4 linked regions of the Homo sapiens genome follow. The protein of the gene in region 2 interacts with the protein of the main gene of each other region in a pairwise test. Each region holds a gene or a part of one and is shown on either strand. Other genes may lie near its edges.

Region 1 (4,772 bases), on a different chromosome or scaffold from region 2:
GCAAAAAAGGATCATCTTTTGATATTTTGATAGGCAAACCATGACCCTCACAGGCCCCCTCAAAACAAAGTGCAAGGGGAACCCCACACCCCCAGTCCTCCTCCTGCTCACTGGGTCCCCTCCTCTCCCCCTAGGGTCTGGCCTCCCCATGGGCTTTCTTGAAGCGAAGAAGAGTTAAAAGCGGGAAGGAAGGGGGGTGTGGGGAGCCCTGGTGAGGGAGGGGGAGGAGGCAAGAGGAGGAAGACGTGTCCCTGGGAGATAAGGCCGTGGGCTGCCCCCGGCCCGAGCCTGTGTTCAGAGAGCCGAGAATCTGACCGCGGGAAGGGACCCCAGAGGCCTTCAAGGTCCTTTCTCCTAATTTTAGAGCTCAGAGAGTACAGGGCCTTGAGCGCGGCCCTGGCTTCTGGGAGGCTGCTGCAGCCCTTGGCACAGGGCTTACCCCGTCCTTTGAATGCACCTGCAGTGGGCTGGGTGCTGGGATGCGGGGGAGCACATGCTGAGCACCTCTCACACTCGCTCCTGATGGATAAAGGTCCTTTCTCGCTCCCCACCATCCCATGTGGTTGGATTGGGATCCCCGTTTAGCAGATATGAGCACTGAGGCTCAGTGATGAGCCTTACAGCAGGCAAGGGCTGGGCCTGAGCTTGGCCCCCTGTGCAGAGCCCCCAGTCCAAACTCTTGATGCCCCCAGGCTCTGGGCCAGGGGGAAGCAGGCCTGGGCATAGTCGGGTCCCTCTTCTGCCTGGCTGTGGTTCATCTCCTTGGGGAAGGGGTGAGTCCCTGGCCCTTTTCCAAGCTGCATTCTCTAATCTCCCACCTCCCACCCTGCTCCTGGGCCAAGGCCTTATCACCCAGGCCCTCACTGCTGTTCTGAAGCAGCTGTGATCCCTCTCCCGCCTTCTCCGGACCCTATCACCCCTGCAGCCTTGCATGGCGGCTGGCCCAAGGGGTGGGGGGGTGGGACTCCTCTGACGCCTCAGGCATGGGCCTGGTGTCGGCCTGGGTGCAGCGTGGGGGCAGAAAGGATAGAGGACCACCAGAAGATGCTCTCCAGAGTGCCCGGGGGAACCTCACAGGCTGAGTGCAGGGATGTGAACCATTCTGGGGGCCAGGCAGGGCTCTCAGCTCCAGAGGGCTCTGCAGGGGAAGCCAGGAGTCCTGGGGTGGTCAAGTTGGTCCAGCCCTGTCACTCCCTGACTCTGCCTGGGATGGTCCCTTGACTGATGTGGTCCTTGGTTTCTTCTCCCACTCCCTGACTGGTGGGGTTGGTAGTGATGCTGGGCTGCCCACGGAAGCTGGGGGCTGTTCGCCTCTTCTCCTGTGTCCATGAAGCCTCAGGCCTCCAGGTGCAGTGGAGTTGGGGGTCCTCTCAGGTCTTGAGTCCCCACACCCCACTCCTCAGAGAGAGAAAGCCCCTGTCTCTCTAGGGAACAGACTCTGGGCCAGGGCTGTGGACAAGGCGCAGCCGTGCTCTGGCGGCTGTGGCTTGCGGCTTGCAGGAGCACGTGGATTGGCAATGTCCCCTCGTTTGCTGCAGCTTCTCTGCCAGAGCCCCCAGTGATAGACACTGAACACCTGTGATGCACCTGTCAGCACTGCAAGCCTGGACATCCCCACTTACAGCAAAGGGGATAGGCCCAGAGAGGTTAAGTGTGTGTCCCAAATTGCACAGCAAGTGAACTGAGATTCTAACCCACGAACCACTGATTCCAAAACCTAAGCTCAGACCACCCGTTTCTATGGCCTCTGAAGGTGAATCTCACTGGTACCCAAATGTAGCTTTCTAGAATTGGGGTCCACTGTGTGTCACAGAGGGAGACCCCAGTCCCTGCCTTTCCTTTTCTGCTCCATTGCAGCCCAGGTCATGCCAATGGGAGCAGGCTTGTCTGAGCGTTTTCTAGGGGGCGATGCATTCATTTCCTGGTGAAGGAGCAGTGAGGGAAGTTAGGATTTGTAGCTGCCGTAACAAAATAGCACAAACAGGTGGCTTAAAACCAACAGAAATTTATTCTTTCATGGTTCTGGGATCTAGAAATCCAAAATCGAGGTGTCCGCAAAGTGGGTTCTTTCTGCAGACGCCAGGGGAGAGGGTTTCATGCCCCTCTCTGAGTTCTGGCGGCTGTCGGCACTGCCTGGCATTCTCTGGCTGATAGAAGCTCCGAGTTCTGGCGGCTGTCGGCACTGCCTGGCATTCTCTGGCTGATAGAAGTGTCACTCTCTGCTCTGTTGTCGGCACACGGCGTTCTCCCTGGGTGTCTGTGTCTCTGGGTCCAAATTTCCATCTTCTTATAAGGACACGAGTCATCTTGGATTGAGGGCCCATCCTAACCCGGAATGACCTCATCATAACTTGATTACATCTGCAAAAACACCCTATTGCTAATAAGGTCACATTCACAGGTTCTGGGTGGACATGAACTTTGGGGGCCACTGTTCAACCCAGTATAGCTGGTGTTTTATCTCAGGAGGAGGTTCTGAGATATGGAGGGGTATTGTTCTCTTGTCCTTCCTAACCGCTCCCATCCCTCCCCCTTGCAGGTGTGGGGTGCACACTGAAAATGCCACGCTCCTTCCTGGTGAAGAGCAAGAAGGCTCACACCTACCACCAGCCCCGTGTGCAGGAAGATGAACCGCTCTGGCCTCCTGCCCTTACCCCGGGTGAGTCAGAGCCCGGGCTGGCGCCTGCTGCACCCACGGGGGGCTCTCTGCTCTGCGTGATGAGGGTGCAGCAGCGTCCCTCCTGCAGCAGCCTCTTCTTCCAAGTCTGGAAACAGGAGTGCAGTAACTGTGGGTTGCAGATGAAAGGAGTAGACAAATGAGTGATGCCCTCATCCCTTCTGCCCTGTTAGGGAGACGAGAGTGTCAGGTTGGAGCCAGTACTTAGTTACTGGCATGTGGGGCCTCACTGGAGGCCCAGTCTAGGGCTGGAGTTGGGTTGCTCAGAAAAACAGACTGGTCCAAAGTCTTCCCCGGGGTCTCCTCCTGGCCTCTTCTTGCCGCCGCCTGCTCTGGGCAGAGCCCGGGAGTGTGAGCCGCCAGAAGCAGCGGCACGTGGCTGTCTCTCTGGGCCTCCTCCTCCTAGGAAGGGCGTGCCCTCCTTGCTCCCTCTGGGCTTCCCAGAAACCGTGGCTATTGATGCTGATGGTCCTATCTCCCCACAGTGCCCAGAGACCAGGCTCCAAGCAACAGCCCTGTCCTTAGCACTCTATTCCCAAACCAGTGCCTGGACTGGACCAACCTCAAACGAGAGCCGGAGCTGGAGCAGGACCAGAACTTGGCCAGGATGGCCCCGGCACCAGGTACCCCGCTGTGACCCACTGTCATTCCCCAGGGAGTGCCAAGGGGAGGAAGGATGAAGGGACTCTTGCAGCAGGGCCCCTTGGGGCCCTGGAGTCAGGAAGGACCCACGAAGTCACTGGATGCAGCCCGGGCTCTGTGGCTTCTGCTTGGGCCTCTCAGACAGGGAGCTAATTCCCGGATGTGGGCTAGGTGGGAGAAGAGGCCAGAAGCAGCAGCTGGGCCGGTCCGTGCAGGGAGTGAGGTGGGCACTGTGGAGTGAGGCTGGGGGTGTCTCTGGGCTGGAAAAGCTGAGGAGCCACAGTGAGGACCCAGACATTCCTGGCAGTAAGTATCTGGGTTGACACCCTGAAACCCTCCACATGAGGTGATGAAGGTAGTGGTGTGTGGTAGAGGGTGGTGGGAAGGGGGTGCCCTGTGTTTATTTTATTTCATTTTATTTTTTGAGACAGTGTCTCACTCTGTTGCCCAGGCTGGAGTGCAGTGGCACGATCTCAACTCACTGCAACCTCTGCCTCCCAGGTTCAAGCAATTCTCCTGCCTCAGCCTCCCTAGTAGCTGGGATTATAGGCGTGAGCCACCACGCCTGGCTAATTTTTGTATTTTTTGGTAGAGACAGAGTTTCACCACGTTGGTCCGCCTGGTCTTGAACTCCCGACCTCAAGTGACCCACTTGCCTCAGCCTCCCAAAGTGCTGGAATTGCAGGCATGAGCCACGCCACTGTGCCCAACCCCCTGTGTTTAAATGAGTAACCAGGCCTGTGTCGTTATCTCCACAGAGGGCCCCATTGTGCTGTCCCGACCCCAGGATGGGGACTCTCCACTGTCCGACTCACCCCCATTCTACAAGCCTAGCTTCTCCTGGGACACCTTGGCCACAACCTATGGCCACAGCTACCGGCAGGCCCCCTCCACCATGCAGTCAGCCTTCCTGGAGCACTCCGTCAGCCTGTACGGCAGTCCTCTTGTGCCCAGCACTGAGCCCGCCTTGGACTTCAGCCTCCGCTACTCCCCAGGCATGGATGCGTACCACTGTGTGAAGTGCAACAAGGTGGGCAGCGGGGGGTGTGGTGGGCACCTGGGCCCTCCTCTCCGCACTCCCTCTCAACTCACTGGCAGCTCTGGGCGTTCTCTGTGCTGTGAATGTTGGGGCTCTGGTGGGATTAAGGATTCAAAACGTTCATCCTCATCACCATTCATTGAGCTCTGACCACGTGCCTGGCCCTGTGCTAAGCAATTGACAGGCATGAGTGCCAGAGTCAGATGAAAGGTTAAGGTTCAGAGAGGTTAAGTCACTTTTCCAGGATCAGACAGCAAGTAGATATCAGAACCAGCATTCAAACCCAGCTTCGGCCAACTCCCAGCTCTTAACCACTGGGCTATTCAGCCTCTAGATGAGGCAAGGAGGGGCCTCCAGATCCCCTCTCTCACATCCAACTTTGTAGAAGGGAGACTGAGCCACAGAGAGGCAAAC
Region 2 (5,553 bases):
TTTTTTACCCATTTTACAGATTTATAAACTAAAGCTTGGAGTGGTTATAACTTGCACAAAGTCACAAAGCTGGTAAGTTCCTGTTCTAAGATTCTATGATTCTGGAACTGGTCTACACTTTAGGAAACTCCCACCTTCTTGTGTTCTAGGGTAGATAAGCCTGGTGCCCCACAATCCACCCTTTGGTGGCAGCAACAGCCAGATTCCTACTCCCCAGCCCTCTGGAGGGTCGTGTGAGACCACTGAGGAGCCTTTGATGAAATGGGGCTTTTCATCTTGGGTCAGCCCCTGAAACAAGGGGTGGAAGGAGTGTTTGGGTCCAAGAAAGAGAGTATGGCATCTTCTCTTTTGTGTGAAGGATTCAACTTCATGGAGAAGAATGAGCAAGGGGCTCATTCATGAGCCCTAGCCTGCTTCCCCTTTCTTCTAGGACTTCTAGAGACACTACGGAAACTGGAAATTCATGAGCAAATCCCATCACTGATACAGTACCCTGATGGCCAGACATTGACCCCTCCTCAGAAGGCTGCCCAGATACCATCTTGCCTGAGTTTCCCTCCCTCTCTCCTCTCCTCACTTACTTCTTTCCCCGCTTGCCTTTCTGACTCATACTCTGTAGGAGGCAATTCTGCAGACCCCACTACAGCCTAGAGCAGTCCCACCTCGGCTTGCAAAAGAAAGCCACCAGCACTTTTAAACGGATTGCTAACTTTAGATCTCCCAGCCTCGCTTCTTAGCTTCTCTGCCCAAGAGCCTTCTAGGGCCACAACAGCTCAGCCCACCCATTTCACAGCTGCCTCAGCTTGTACTACCCTCCCCAAGCATGGCACCACTAGTCTCTGAGTCTTCCAGCCAGATGATGCTCTCTCTCCTGGAGCTGTCAATCTGGAACATTGTGCCCATTGGTCCTTCCCAGCCAGCTACTTCACTGAGGTCTGCCTTCCCTCCAGAGTCCAAGAAAGAAGCATCCTCCTCTGGCCCAAAGCTGAACTTGAGATCCACCCCTCCAGGCTCATCCAGGACCTTCCTCAATCTATTACTTCTGTCTTTTCTAAATATTAAGTCTCTTCCTCATGCCTGCCTTCTCCCTCTACCCTATCCCTAGGTATTCACATATCTTCCCTCCTAAAAAAAACCTCCCCTCAACTCTGCTCCCCATCTCCAACTACCTTGCTATTTTTAATCTTCCCTTCACAGTCAAACCTTTCCAAAGAGCCATCTATATGCACTCCCACCACTTCCTCCCCATGCGCTCACTCCTCATTCCCCTTGGAATTTGAATTCCACCTCCCATACACAATTGAAACTGTTATTTCAAAGATTACCAATGATTCCTAGTCTCCAGAACCAATGGTATTTGCTCAGTTCCCATCTCCCTCAACTTCTCTGCAGCATTAAACCCTGTTGATCACCTGTGTTTCCCAAGTATTGCTCTCTCCTGGTTCTCCTCCAGCCCTTCTGCATCTGTTCTCCTACAGCCCAACTGTAGATACCCCTGTATATACAATTCTGTCTTTGGCACTCTGCCCTTAATTCTGTGTATGCTTTTCATTTATTATATCATCTATTTTGATAGCTCCAGCCACAACTTCTTTCAGATAGCTCCCAAATCTATATTTCCAGATCTGGCCTCCTTCCAAAGCTCCAGACTCCCTTCATTATCCACCTACTGAATCCACACGTCCCTTAGCTATTTCACTGACACCTGAAATGCAACATGTCCCAAAGCAAATTCTCCAAATCCCCCCTCTTCCCCTGCCTCCCCACAGCTGCTCCTCCTCTTAGCAGTTCCTGACTTTCATTAAGGGTATGTCTGTTCTCTCAGTCACTCAAACTCTAAACTTTGGAGTAATCTTGGGTTCCTATCTCTTTCTTGACACATCAACATCCAAGATGCCAGGCCCTATAGACTCCACCTCCCAAAGTAACTCATATCCATCCCCTCCTCTCCATTTCTGCTGCTGCTTCTCAAGTTCAGACTCTCCTAGCCTATCACAGTGATCTTCTAACCCATCCCCAACCAACAGTCCCTCCCCTACTCCAATGGACCCTCCACAGGGCTGCCAGATTTATCTTTCTGATCATGTCATTTTTAGTGGCTTCCCAAAGCCAACTGCTGAAAGACCAAATTCATTGGCCTTCCATTCAATGCCTTCATGATGTAGGAGCCTAGTAAATATTTGATAAAGGAATCAACTAATCAACCTGGTTGCCACCTCCTGAGTCTCATCTCCCATTGATCCTCCACCAGCCACTGAGTCACATAAACTGGACCATTTACTGCCCCTAAATATGCTATGAATATTCACACCTCCTTTCAATGCTGTTTTAACCTGGGATCACAACACTTTCTGTCTTCCCTGTCCAAACCATACCCATCCTATGTCCCAGATCAAGGAGAAGTAGCCACTCCCTTAAGTGTACAAAGCGTCTGCCACTTTTCACTCTTAAATTTGTTTATCTGTTGCTTCCATGTTCCCTAGCTAGTGTCCAGCTCCCTTCTAATAATGTCATAGGGCAGATGGGGAGGAGACAAAGCTAATTCTCCTACAGTTTCTTCTTTACCTCCCTGAATTAATTCCTCTGTCCACCCATTTGATTCTTTCTGTTCCCTCGCTCCTAGGCAGACACAATTTCAAGCAGCTCTATTGATCCGACAGCTCTGTGGCTGTCAGTCATTTCCTAGTTATTTTCGCTGCCAGTCATTCATACACAAAGGAGTGGCAGGAGGACTCTGAACTTTCCTCTGCATCCAGAGAAAAGGCAGGAAGGACCTGATTCTCTGTGCACACCTGAGATTCAGCAGAAGTAAGAAGCAAGGACCTTCTCCACATGGATCGAGCCACGTGCCCCATGACCCAGACAGGGACTGCCATTCTTCTACTTATGCAGAGGAGGAGAAAAAAGGGGTCCCCTGACCTGCTGTAAAAGGGTGCCCCATCCAGTCCCCTTGGGAAACCAAAATGAGAAGAACTGCATCTCTTCCTGGACTGGAAAGGTCCCATGGAAATCAGATTAAATCAGATAATACTTGTCAGAAGAGGCACTTAGAGTAATAGAATGTTCAATTTGGAAAGATCTACATATATTCGGATAGTATTGTACAACTTTTCAGATACAGTATCTTATTTGAGTCTCTCAGCAGCTCTATAAGGGAAGGGTTGGGGCGGGGGGCTATTATCCTCATCTTACACAGATGTTAAAGTCATTTGTCCAAGTTATTCATGTAAGTAGAGAGCAAAATGGAGTGTTTACCTCCTGCTCTATTGTCTGACCTTCTCAGCCTCCTTCATAGACTTTTCCCTCCCCTTTTAACCCCTTATATCCAAGTGCTCCCAGAGGGGGTATATTTATTTCCATTTCCATTCCTGTTCTACATTCTTTTTTTAATGGCTTTATATACTCCCATAGCATGCGTGGTACATGACTATAGTAAACACTTGATAAATATTTTTCAAACAAATGATTAAATGAATGAATGAAAGAGAGCCAAGGCCCAAAACCTAGCCTTCTGATGCCACACACAGGATCCCTGCACTGCATCATGTTGCCTCTCTGGCACCCTCTTGCATCCCATGTCAAAAGTCCTGCCTAGCATGCCTTCAAGAGACCTTCAGCCTCTGTCCATCACATTCAATTAATAATTAAAACAGCAGGAACAACAGGGATAACTAGGATTTCTTGTGCTTCTAGTGTGTCAGAGACCACTAGATGCTCCATACATGTTTTTTCCTACTTAATACTCTCAACCTGTGAAACAAGCTTTATCAGTCCCATTTTGCAGAAGATGAGGATGAGAGATATTAAATAATTAATGCAAGATCCTATCCCTAGTTAGTGCTGAACCTATTCCATCCAAAGCCTGTCATCCTCTGGCTATACCAGCGTTTCTCCATCTCAGCATTACTGACATTTTGGAGCTGGATAATTATTTGTTGTCCTGTGCATTGTAAGATGCTTAGCAGCACCCTTGACCTCTACCCACTAGATGCCAGTAGCAAACCCTCCCTAAGTTATGACACCAAAAAAATGTCTCCAGGCATTGCTAAATGTTCTATGATGGGGGGTGGGAGGGGAGAATTGCCCTTGTTGAGAACCACTGGGCTATACCATACTGACCACCTCCAGCAGTAAACTATCAAATACCAGAACCAGAGAAAACTTTGAAAAGTAAAAAGTGTTCATTTCCAACATCTAAGAAGAACCTCTAGTTCACCCCTTATAGTGTTTTATTGATTTTATTTATAGTCAGGAAGATTTTCTTACTTCTCAGCTAATTTCTTTCTGTAGCTTCAGTTTATTCTAAAACCTCCTTTCATCCCTCAAGGGATTATCAAATACGACTGGACAGTATGTACCAGTAATAAAGTTATTGGTGATTTGTGGCACAAGGATGAAGCAAAGCTTACCAAATCTTACAGAGGTGGACCTGGATGTCACTGATATGTACTAAAATATATTAATAGTAGAAATAGCCTATAAAAATATAGCATTAGAAATATTAACAACATTCCCTCTCCAGAACCACAAAGTCTTCCCAATACTCCCCCAAAGGCTCCTGAAAAATGATGTGACCAAAAGCCCAGTTCATAATGGGTGAAAGTGGAGGAGATCAAGAAGGGACAACAAGCATTAAATTAAGCATCGTGTTTACACTCTGGAGCATCAAGCATAACTTAAAAAAAAAAAGAGATGTTTTCCTTTGCTGCAAAAGAAAGCTCAGGAAGTAAGAGACTCCTCCCTTTTTAGGTACCTGGCAATGTACAGACTGGGCGGTGACATTTACTCAAGGAATTGCATACCAACATAGATTGTTATTCCCAAATCTCCCTTCTATATGATCTGGACATGACAATAGTTTAAGGTTCCCTGCCTAGATGTGATGGGGTTATTATTTAAGAAAAAAGTTTAAGAAATCATACAGTGAATATAAACAAACCATCACTTAGATTCAATAGCTGCTTATATTTTGCCATGTTTGATTTATATTGTGAGGGGGTGTTTTTTGATTAATCACAAGCTTTTAAAAAGATCCTTTTTCTTACCTCCAAAGAACAAATAACTTCAATGGGGGAGACAAGCCTTCATGTATGGAAAGGCTAAATAACAATACAATACTAATGAAGTGAGAAAATGAGTACAGACAGTGAGTAATTCAAAGGGCTGTCATCGTGAGCTGTGAAAGCTCCCAGAAGAAGGCAGGGATCAAGTCTTAAAGACTGTGTTGGATTTGGAGGGTGCCGGGGTGGTTGATCCAAGGAGACTGTGAATGCAGGAGCCCTTGGGCAGTGTGTGGAGAGCAGCCTGGCTGGAGTTGAGCTGTGAGGCCGACACTTGACCCTGAAGGCACTAGGGGGTTACTGAAGGTTCAAGCACCAAGCAGTGGTGTGATGAAAGTAGTGCTTTAGGAAGTTTAATGTGTCTGCAGGTCCAATTTGGAGTGGGGCTAAGTGAACAGCTTCCAAGGGATGAGAATGAGGGCCAGGAAAGGAGTCCATGGGGGCATATGGGGCCTGGCCTGGGGCCATGCCCTGTGAATGAGCAGCAAGAGCT
Region 3 (4,772 bases), on a different chromosome or scaffold from region 2:
ATCTGCCAGCACTCAGAGCCCAACCCAGGCCCCTCTTGCCCACATCAGGCCCAAGAGTGAGGCCTCCGTGCCAGCCCCACCCAGCGCTGCCTGTCTCCAGGGTCCTTTCTGCTCAGTCCTATCAGCTGACAACCATGGCAACACTCAGGGGCTTGACTAGATGATGCCCTGTCACCACCCTCTGCTCCCAAGGCCACACAGGTGAGTGTCGGGCGGGCAGGTGCAGAGGCCGGGCCCCAGGCAGTGTAGACAGTGACACCCACCCTGCCTGCGCAGCTGGTGCTCCTGCTGGCTCCCGCGCGCCTCTGCGCTTGTCAGCGCCGTGCGCAAGTGCTGCAGCTTCTCCTGGTTCTGCAGGTGCGTCATGCGCAGCTGGGCACGCAGCGCCTGGATCTCGGACAGCAGGCTGCTCCGGTCCGGCAAGCGAAGATGCTCCAGGGACTTTTCCTGCAGGTCTCCCTGGGGGCACAATGGGACAAGCAGCCTGAGCATTGGGCAGCCACCCCATGCCCCGGCCTTCCCTGCTGCCCGCCCTCAAAACCAGCTCCGCCGGGACAAGCCTGCTGAGTCTGGGATGGGTGCACAGTATCTGCTGGGCCTCAGCTCTGGGGCCTGCAGGCGTCAGGGCTGGGCTGCACTACCCTGCGTGAGGCCTGCAAGCCAGTTACTCTCAACACTAGGTTTCCTCGTGTATGCTGGCAGGAACAGGATTTCCAGTGTCCCCACGGCACCAACGCCACCCAGCCCTGCACACAGAGCACCTCTCAACCTAGGAGGGGCTACTTGGAATGGAGAACGTTTCTTTAGCCACCTATCTCAGAAAAGAGTGAGGCCTGAGGGTGCATCTCGAGCACACCTGTCCTGTTACAGCTGCAGGTGGAAAAGTGCAGCATCCTGCATGGACTGAGCGTCAACACCTGGGTAAGTGACAGCCACATTCCAGCGGTCGAGAGAAACACACAAACCGAAATTCACACACAAAACAGTCTGTGTCACCCTCTCTGCCAGGGCTGGACCCCTGGGGCAAACTGAGGCCTGGTGGCAGAGCTGACACTCACCTGCTCACGGATGATCTTCTCCAGCCTTTCGAGCAGGGAGCTGTGACCCCCCAGATCTGAGCCACTGAGTCGGGGCTGCAGCTCAACCCCCTGCATCTCCTGCTCTTTTTCAAAGGCCTCTTGCACAACCTGCAGAAGGTCCCCTCTCCAATCGGGGCACGCGGTGGGCACTTCCTAAAGGAAGAAGGAAGAAACGTGGCGTCCTCACAAATGCACCTGCATCCTTGTGCCCTAAAGTTCGCAGTGTGACTGCGTTTGGAGATGGGGCCTGCGGGAGGTGATTCAGGGTAAATGAGGCCTCTTAAGAAGAGGAAGAGACACCAGAGCTCACTCGCTGTCTCCATCATATGAGGACACAGCACGGAGACGCTGTCCGCAAACCAGGAAGGGCGCCTACACCAGAATCCAACCCTGTGGGCACCCTGATGCCACAACAGGTGAAATCAATGTCTGCTGTTTAAGCCCCCTGGTCTGGGGTGTTCTGTTACGGCAGCTGAGCAGACTGACAGCCGTTCAAACAGAAATGACCCTGACAGAAGAGAAGACACACACTGCCCAGGGCCATTCAAGGCACGAGAAGCAAAGGCTGCCATCATGAGCACAGAAGAGACTGAAAAAGACGATAAAGTAAGGTCAGGAAAATGTCAGCAAAGCTCCTTCCCTCTTTTCCTGCTGCTGTGCCTTCAAGGCCCAGGGCCTGGAGGGGACCTAAGGCTGCAAGGGGCTACCCGCTGGTCCCCAGGGGCAGCGTGCAGCACCAATGAGCCTCCTGAATGCCAGCCAGGCTGCCGCTCGCACACAACCAGGGCCTGCTGGAGGGGCGAGCGGAGGCGGGTGGGGCTGACCCTCCCACCGGCTCTCCATGGCACCAGCACACCCTGTGCGTTCCAGGCACAGGGAGAAAGCCCTTCCCTCCCTCACAAAGCTTTGATCCCAGTCAGAGGCAGGCACAGGGGCAGGACAGGGTGGGCACGGAGATGGGAGGGAGCGTGATGGGAGTTGGCACCCACTCCACAACCTCCACAAGCCCTGGTGATGGAAGCAGACAGGCAGGGAGATGGGGAGGACTTGGGGAAAAGTGGGGTGCGGGGTCGACAGCACAGAGGTGAGGCCCTGAGGTCCAGTTGCTGGGGCTTGGGGTGTGGAGGGGGAGGTAGGAGAGACCCAAGGGGAGGAATGAGGCCGGAGGGCAAGTCACCCGAGTGGCAGGAGGAGAGGCCCTGGGGGACAAGTGCTGGAATGGGCCGAGTCCGCAGGGCCACATGGCCAGGAGGGACCACTCTCAGCCTCCCCGCAGGCTCACACAGGGCACAGGCCTGAAAGCCCTGAGCCCTTCTGCCCCCCACACACCTCCACGTCCCGCAGGGAACCTGCCCCGAGAGCCTGCGCTGGCTGTGGGAGATGGGAAGGCCTCCCCAGGGTTCTTGGACCTCAGTCTTTTTGGCCGTGCTAAAAAAAATCCTAGGCCAGGCACGGTGGCTCATGCCTGTAATCCCAGCACTTTGGGAGGCTGAGGCGGGTGGATCACAAGGTCTGGAGTTCAAGACCAGCCTAGCTAAGATGGTGAAAGCCCGTCTCTACTAAAAATACAAAAATTAGCTGGGCATGGTGGCATGCACCTGTAATCCCAGCTACTCGGGAGGCTGAGGCAGAGAACTGCTTGACCCGGGGTGGTGGAGGTTGCAGTGAGCCGAGTCTCAAAAAAAAAAAAAAAAAAAAAAAAAAAGAAAGAAATCCTAGTGTCCACGTGGCCCTAAGGACGCGGCCATTACCACAAGCTCCTTAAATCCTTTGGAAAAGAAGTGTGTGAAGGGCAAAATAAACCTGCGTCTTTCCCCCATGGAGCGAGATGTCCTGTATCTCGTCTTCCTTCCGGGGTGGGTGTGGCTCGCCGCTTGGGGGTGCAAGGCCTTCTGACAGCGCCAGGATCTGGTGGCTCTCGTCACGCACCATCTGCAGTAAAGCCTGTGGCGGGAAAGCGCGTCAGAAGGGAGTTGCCTGCCACCCCACACAGCCACGCTCTACACCACCTGCGGCCCCGAGCTGCCGCCAGGACTCTGTGAAGGGCGGGCAGCTGTGGAGAGGGAGGGCACCGCCTCGGCTTCGTACAGGCGGCACCCACTTCTCAAGCTACAAGGTTTTCAAGCCCACCTCTCCCGACCTTCAGAGAGACAACACGGAAGCCAGGCTTGGAGTGAATTTCTCTATAAGCCACTCCAAAGATGGCCCCGCCACTTCCTCCACTCCACCTGCTCCCTGAGGGGGACACCGTCCCCCGCCTAAGCCTGGACAAAGCTCAGGGCAGGGCTTTAGGCCAATGTCCACAGCGAGATCACAAACATATCACACACTCCCTGCCCACCTGGGACGCTACGAGAAGGCCACACGATGGCCACCCAGGAGGCCTCTGTGCGTGGTCCGGCTGAGGCCAGTGCCGACCACCAGCGTGGGGTGAAGCTGCCTGTGCTGGGCACGGGGAGCAGAGAAAACCATCCCCAGCAGGCCCTGCCCACAGGTCTGTGAACACGAGGCGGCTGCTTTATCCCACCGATTACGCAGCAGCTGGTGTCCGGACACACACTTGACTGTCTCGCCAGAGAGGCTGAGGGGTAAGCAGACGGCCCTATGGAGAAGCTGGTGTCACGACCAGCCTAGAGCCCAGAGCCCAGAGGCTCAGCGCGGTCACCACCACATGAGCACACACCCAAGCACAGGACACGTCTGCATAAAAACCTGAAGAGAAAAATAATCTAATAAAGTCCAAAAAGAGGGAAATGCAAAATGAGGCAATGATGAAGCCTACGACGGGTGTGACTGACTGAAAATAGGCTTTCCTGTAATTTTAACGATATGCCAAAAAAGGTCAAATATTAACACTAAAGTGTGAAACCAAATTGCACACTATGTTCATCTCTAACAACTGAAAACACTTTTACTTTAAACATAACGTATGTGGCACAGGATGGATGCAAACTGAGGTCTGCGGCAGAGCAGGGTGGGGTTGAGGGGAGCGGGGTGGTGCGGGGAGGAGCGGAGACGGGGGGAGCAAGGCCGTGGCTGGGGGAGCAGGGTTGGGGGGGGCGCAGTGGGAGCAGGGCCGGGGGAGCAGGGCGGCGGGCAGGCCCTGAAGCTGCTTGGCCCCTCTCTTCCAGCTGCAGAGGACAGGCCATTTCCTTCTTTTTAATATGCTTTTCTAGATTCTGTATAGAGGAGAAAATGCATTTTAAAAAACATCTCTTACAAAGAAGAGATGCAGAGGCCCTGGGCCACAGCTTCCCGCCAGGTGACACGGGGCCCTTGCAGGTGGGTTCCCGTGAGGCCGGGAAGTGGGGCAGAGACCAGTGGGTACCTTAGAACATGGCCTGTGAGGCAGCCTGGGGGGTCCCACAGACACAATCACTAGGGCTGAGAAGGTTCTGCCATCTCCACACTCAGGACCAGGCGGCTCTGCCTGTCAGCAGTGGTGGTGGTGGCAGCGGCGGAGGCAGGGGAGTCCTCATTTCCTGAGCTCCAGCACCTACCCTGCCCACTTATGGCTCAATTCCAGGCACGGCCAGAGGTGGCCAAGAGTGGCCGGGGCCCCACCCGTGCTCAGGACCTCTCAGCCTCCTCAGCATAGGGACCACAGGGGCTATTAGAGCGTCGACCACACTCTTGGCGTCTGTGGCTGCATCTGAGCAGTGGGTGTCCCCCACGCGCCTGGAGCCACCTCCA
Region 4 (4,772 bases), on a different chromosome or scaffold from region 2:
ATCATGTGTCTCTTTCTGGATCAATAACTGCATGAGTTGTCTTGCTATGTGTAGGCATCTTAAGCATATAGGAGGACAATTAGAGAATCCAGGTCCTCAGAGGCTTTGTTGATGAGCACATGGGCTGGGGTTTTAAAGAACATAAGTGCCTGTAATAACAGAGCTTACCGCTGACTACTCTGGTGCTCTCTTCTCTGTAAGTGCATTAATTATTGAGAGAACTCATTTGCAGCACGCACACAGTTGAAAGGGCTACTTTGGACGCTAATCAGAAAATACACATTGTTGAAGGGAGCTAATTAGAGAATCACACAACTTTGTAGAGCTTTGCCTGAAAAACTGGATCAATCAGAGATATTGGATATTCAGAGATACTTGTCAGACCTGCAATAAACAAATACATGTAGGCATTGCATGTAAAGATGTAACACTGAGCTGTTTCCATTAGGAAGGATTTTTATTTCTCATCTGTCCATTTCAGTGACTGGAGCCCTCTTGATAACTACATCTGAAGTGGGAGCCCCTGCAGGCAGGATGCAGATATTATGAGTCCTATCTTTTGATTTCAAACACGTTTCTTCCTTCCAATCTAAGACCTGCGCATTCTGCAGTCCAGCCGGGACCACAATGCTATTACTTTGTGGAGGTTTAATAAGCCCTGTGCATTCAATGGGGAGTCACTAAAATAGAGATTTATCCCCAAATCTGTTGCAACACATTACAAATATGTCAAGCGTTCGTGATTGAGTCGGGTCTCAGAAAGAGCATGAGGCATTCTTGACCTATATATTTAAAGAACCCTGGAGGTAAATGTCTGTCCCATTTCCTCAAATATACAAACAACATGATAAAAATAATATTGAATAAAAATAATTTAAAATTTAAAATAAATAAATAATAAAATTAACAATTTGTTTATCAGATTCTTAGGAATAAAGACATAATCACTTTCAGGAGATTGAATGTATAAAACTACAAATCGCAAGACTGGTCAATTAAGGTGTATTGATTCACATACAAAAGGATGTTCACATTACAAAAGAATTATTCAATTTTTTCTTAATGACAGCTCTGTTAATGCTTTCATCACTTTTTTTGCAAATAATCCCTGGTTAGAGAAGACTGAAGAATAACTACCATAAACGAACATTAGTAATTTTCAATGCCATCAAGTTTCATAAAGTTTTAAAAACTCAAATTCTTTCAGGAACAAAGCTATTCTATATGGCAAGAGATTCCTGAACCCTCCACATTAGTGTCTATAATGGGTAGGCCTCATGCCATTATATTTTTCTAAGCCAAAGTTCAGATGCATCAAGTTACCAAAACCCTTTTTACAAGAATGCCAAATTATGTAATTCCTTCCTATAAGAATGTTATGGGCCAGGTGCGGTGGCTCACGCCTGTAATCCCAACACTTTGGGAGGCTGAGGCGGGTGGATCACCCGAGGTCAGGAATATGAGACCAGCCTGACCAACATGGAGAAACCCTGTCTCTACTAAAAATACAAAAATTAGCCAGGCGTGGTGGTGCATGCCTGTAATCCCAGCTACTCAGGAGGCTGAGGGGGGAGAATCGCTTGAACCGGGAGGTGGAGGTTGTGGCGAACCGAGTTGCACTCCAGCCTGGGCGACAAGAGCAAAACTCCATCTCAAAAAAAAAAAAAATGTTATGGCCCATTTATTGTCTAGGTATTTATTACTGAGCTTCCCTTGGATCCAGTTGACAGTAGGAAGCCAACGTTGAATTAGAATGCCTTTAATTTCAGTGAGCCCAGTCCAGTGTCGCTGGGGTCATTTAGTGAATTACATGCTGCCATTCCCAGTGAAATCATATAACTACTCATCATCACTTAGTAGAATAAAGATATCCTGAAAAAGCTAAATGGAGTTTTGAATCATAAATCCCAAGTGGTGCAACAATGTAATAACACAATGACAAAGAAATCATTTGCTGCATTTCCCAAAAATAAGGTCATTGCTCCTGTTGTTCGCGGAAAAAAATTTTCAAGACGGGTAATAACATTTTGAAAATTTGTATGCTCATTTAAATTGTATAAAATGCATTTTTAGGGCTTGATTTGGCCATATTTATTTTTAGTTCTCTTATACTTTTTTTTTTTTTTTTTGAGATGGAGTTTCATCCTTGTTGCCCAGGATAGAGTGCAATCGTGCAGCAACCTCCAATGCGCAGGTTCAAAAGATTCTCCTGCCTCAGCCTCCTGAGTAGCTGGGATTACAGGCGTGTACCACCACGTCCAGCTGATTTTTCTATTTTCAGTAGAGACGGGGTTTCCCCATTTTGGCCTGGCTGGTCTCGAACACCTGACCTCAGGTGATCCATTGCCTAGGCCTCCCAAAGTGGGCGGGGATTACAGGCCAGTTCTCTTATACTCTTGAATAGTCCTTTCCTTCTGTTATGCTGGTTGTTCTTTTTCTGTGGGTAAACTTGAAGGTGTTTCCTAAGGTTCAGGCTTTAAACACTGTCTAAACACATATCACTTTCATTGCCCCGCTAGCAGAGCAGCTGGCTAATGGCAGCCCTCACTTGGCTCAGGTGGTCTCAGATCCCCTCAGCCTGCACCTTCGGGGCCTATGGGTCCAAAGGGGCTGGATGAGGAAGGCTCAATTAATTATTGTTAGCATACAGTAACATAAGGAAAGCAGGGGATATTTTGAAGCAAAAGAAACAAGAATGTTCAGTTACTTTAGACTCAGAAAACGAGCAGTGAGTCATCCTAGAGCTACGTTTCTATGATAAAAATACCTACTAGATATCTTGTCTTGAATGTCCCCAGCTGCATCAAACTCAGCAGGTCTGAAACTAAACCCTTCATCTTTTGTCATCAAAGTACGATCTTTCCCCTATACACCCTTTCACAGTTAGTGATTTCACTGTCCACACAGTTTCCTGAGCTTAGAGCCTGGGAAGGAGTCACCCCTAACCCCTTCTCCTCTGTCACCACTCCCACTTGTCATTGACTCTGAAGCCACCTTCCTTGGACCCCCTTCATATCTCACAATTTAATTCCCTCTCTCACATCCCACAGCTGCTCCTGAGCTCAGACCATCATCATATCTCTCTCCCTGCACATCCTTTACCCTGGGCCCTCGCTCCAGGACCACACACCACCAGCCCATTCTCTAGACAGAGTTTTGCACCTGGTATGTCACGAGTTACAGGTGTGCCAAGATGGTGAGTCCTTCAGACCTCAAGGTGGCCAGAAACAGCTCCCTGGGTTCATCCCAGTGTACTGCACAAATACCCCTTGTCTGCCTGTTCCTCAAAAAGTGGGAAGCACTGGGCTGGATAAGGCACACTGTCTGTACCAAAACAGCAGAAACTCAGACCCAGCGTCAGTCCAGCTCAAGTCAGGCAGTGTTGGTTGCAAAGTGGACCTGGTGGCTGGGCCCTAATTGTGCTCATGCTTTGCAAGGAGGTGATGGGATATATTAAAGCCTTGAAACAGGGCCCTGAAGATGGGAATGAGAAGGAGTCAAGGCCAGGTGGCTCATGTCTGTAATCCCAGTGCTTTGAGAAGCTGAGGCAGGAGCATCACTTGAGTTCAAGAGTTTGAGACCAGCCTGGGAAACCAAGCAAGACCCTGTGTCTCCAGAATATTTTAAGAATAATAATTAGCCAGGCATGGTGGTATGTAACTGTAGCCCTAGCTACTCTGGAGGCTGAGGTGGAAGGTTTGCTTGAGCCCAGGAGTTTGAGGCTACAGTGAGCCATGAATGCACCATTGCACTCTAGCCTGGGCAACAGAGCAAGACTCTATCTCTTCTTGTTTAAAAAAGAAAAAAAAAAAAAAGAGTCAAGAGATATTTTGCCGGTAGAATTAACCTGGAGAGAAAGGTGTCAGTGAAACCTCTGAGGTTTCAAGGATGGAAGGATGGTGATAATGTTACACAAGATGGAGCACACAGGAGAGAAGCAGTATTTGGGATTGGGAGGGGATGGGGTTGGCCTTCATTAACTGAATTGGTAGACTGTGGCCTTCAGAATTCCAGATGGACACTCGTGTGGAAATGCCTAGCAAAGCACCTAAAATTCACATCTAGGGCTCAGGAGAAAGAGCAAAATGGAAAAGATAGATGGGAATGTTATTTATAAAGCAATGAGGAAAGCAGCCAAGCCTTCCGAGAGAGGCCTGAGAGCAGGCCACTGAACACTCCGTATTTAGAGGAAAGACAGAGAAAAGGATCCAGTCAAGGAAAGTGAGAAAGGGTGGCCAGAAATGTAGGCAGAGATCTGGAAGACCACAGTGCCCTGGCAGCTGAAAGGGCCAACAACAAAAATATCAACGGCATCAAATGCTATAGTAATGCAGGTAGGAAGAGGACGAAGAGGAAACCAGAGAATTTGGCAATGAGAGGTCAGGGTGACCTTTCAGTAGCTGATGGTGAAAGAAGCTGTGTCAGTTCAGGTTTTTGAGAAGCGCCTAGCAAGACAGATTAGACACACAAGGAATTTATTGGGGAAATTCTTGTGAAGAAGGAAGCAAAAGGAAGCAGGAGGTGGCAAGGAGAGTCTGGAGACCATAACAGAGGTCCGACACCTGTGAGAGGAGAAGGCGAAGGAGGGATTGGTTGGAGGCACGTCAGGCTGCGGTGCACTTCTGAGAAGGCTGCAGTGAGGCTGATGGGGTATCCCTGAGCAAAGGATGCCTGTTAGGGAGATCCTGCATCGGGCGGGGACGGCCATGAGAAAAGCCCTGTCACGCTTGTCATTGGCTTGCAGCATCCCAGAGAACACATGCCTCCCTTCC

Evidence for each region. The genes of interacting proteins can lie anywhere in the genome.
Region 1: the proteins of KALRN (region 2) and GFI1B interact in a two-hybrid assay, tested with the Homo sapiens proteins (one large-scale study listed by BioGRID and IntAct).
Region 3: the proteins of KALRN (region 2) and PCNT interact in a two-hybrid assay, tested with the Homo sapiens proteins (one large-scale study listed by BioGRID and IntAct).
Region 4: the proteins of KALRN (region 2) and DSCAM interact in a two-hybrid assay, tested with the Homo sapiens proteins (one large-scale study listed by BioGRID and IntAct).

The regions. Positions count from the first base shown.
Region 1 is NC_000009.12:132,984,120-132,988,891, forward strand, and holds part of GFI1B (zinc finger protein Gfi-1b), read left to right. Parts: intron 1-2,539; 5' UTR 2,540-2,559; coding exon 2,560-2,659; intron 2,660-3,162; coding exon 3,163-3,300; intron 3,301-4,077; coding exon 4,078-4,349; intron 4,350-4,772. UniProt on the Homo sapiens protein: Essential proto-oncogenic transcriptional regulator necessary for development and differentiation of erythroid and megakaryocytic lineages.
Region 2 is NC_000003.12:124,038,915-124,044,467, reverse strand, and holds part of KALRN (kalirin), read right to left. Parts: intron 1-5,553. UniProt on the Homo sapiens protein: Promotes the exchange of GDP by GTP. Activates specific Rho GTPase family members, thereby inducing various signaling mechanisms that regulate neuronal shape, growth, and plasticity, through their effects on the actin cytoskeleton.
Region 3 is NC_000021.9:46,424,082-46,428,853, reverse strand, and holds part of PCNT (pericentrin), read right to left. Parts: intron 3,024-4,772; coding exon 2,883-3,023; intron 1,233-2,882; coding exon 1,059-1,232; intron 460-1,058; coding exon 264-459; intron 1-263. UniProt on the Homo sapiens protein: Integral component of the filamentous matrix of the centrosome involved in the initial establishment of organized microtubule arrays in both mitosis and meiosis. Plays a role, together with DISC1, in the microtubule network formation.
Region 4 is NC_000021.9:40,014,461-40,019,232, reverse strand, and holds part of DSCAM (cell adhesion molecule DSCAM isoform CHD2-42 precursor), read left to right. Parts: intron 1-4,772. UniProt on the Homo sapiens protein: Cell adhesion molecule that plays a role in neuronal self-avoidance. Promotes repulsion between specific neuronal processes of either the same cell or the same subtype of cells.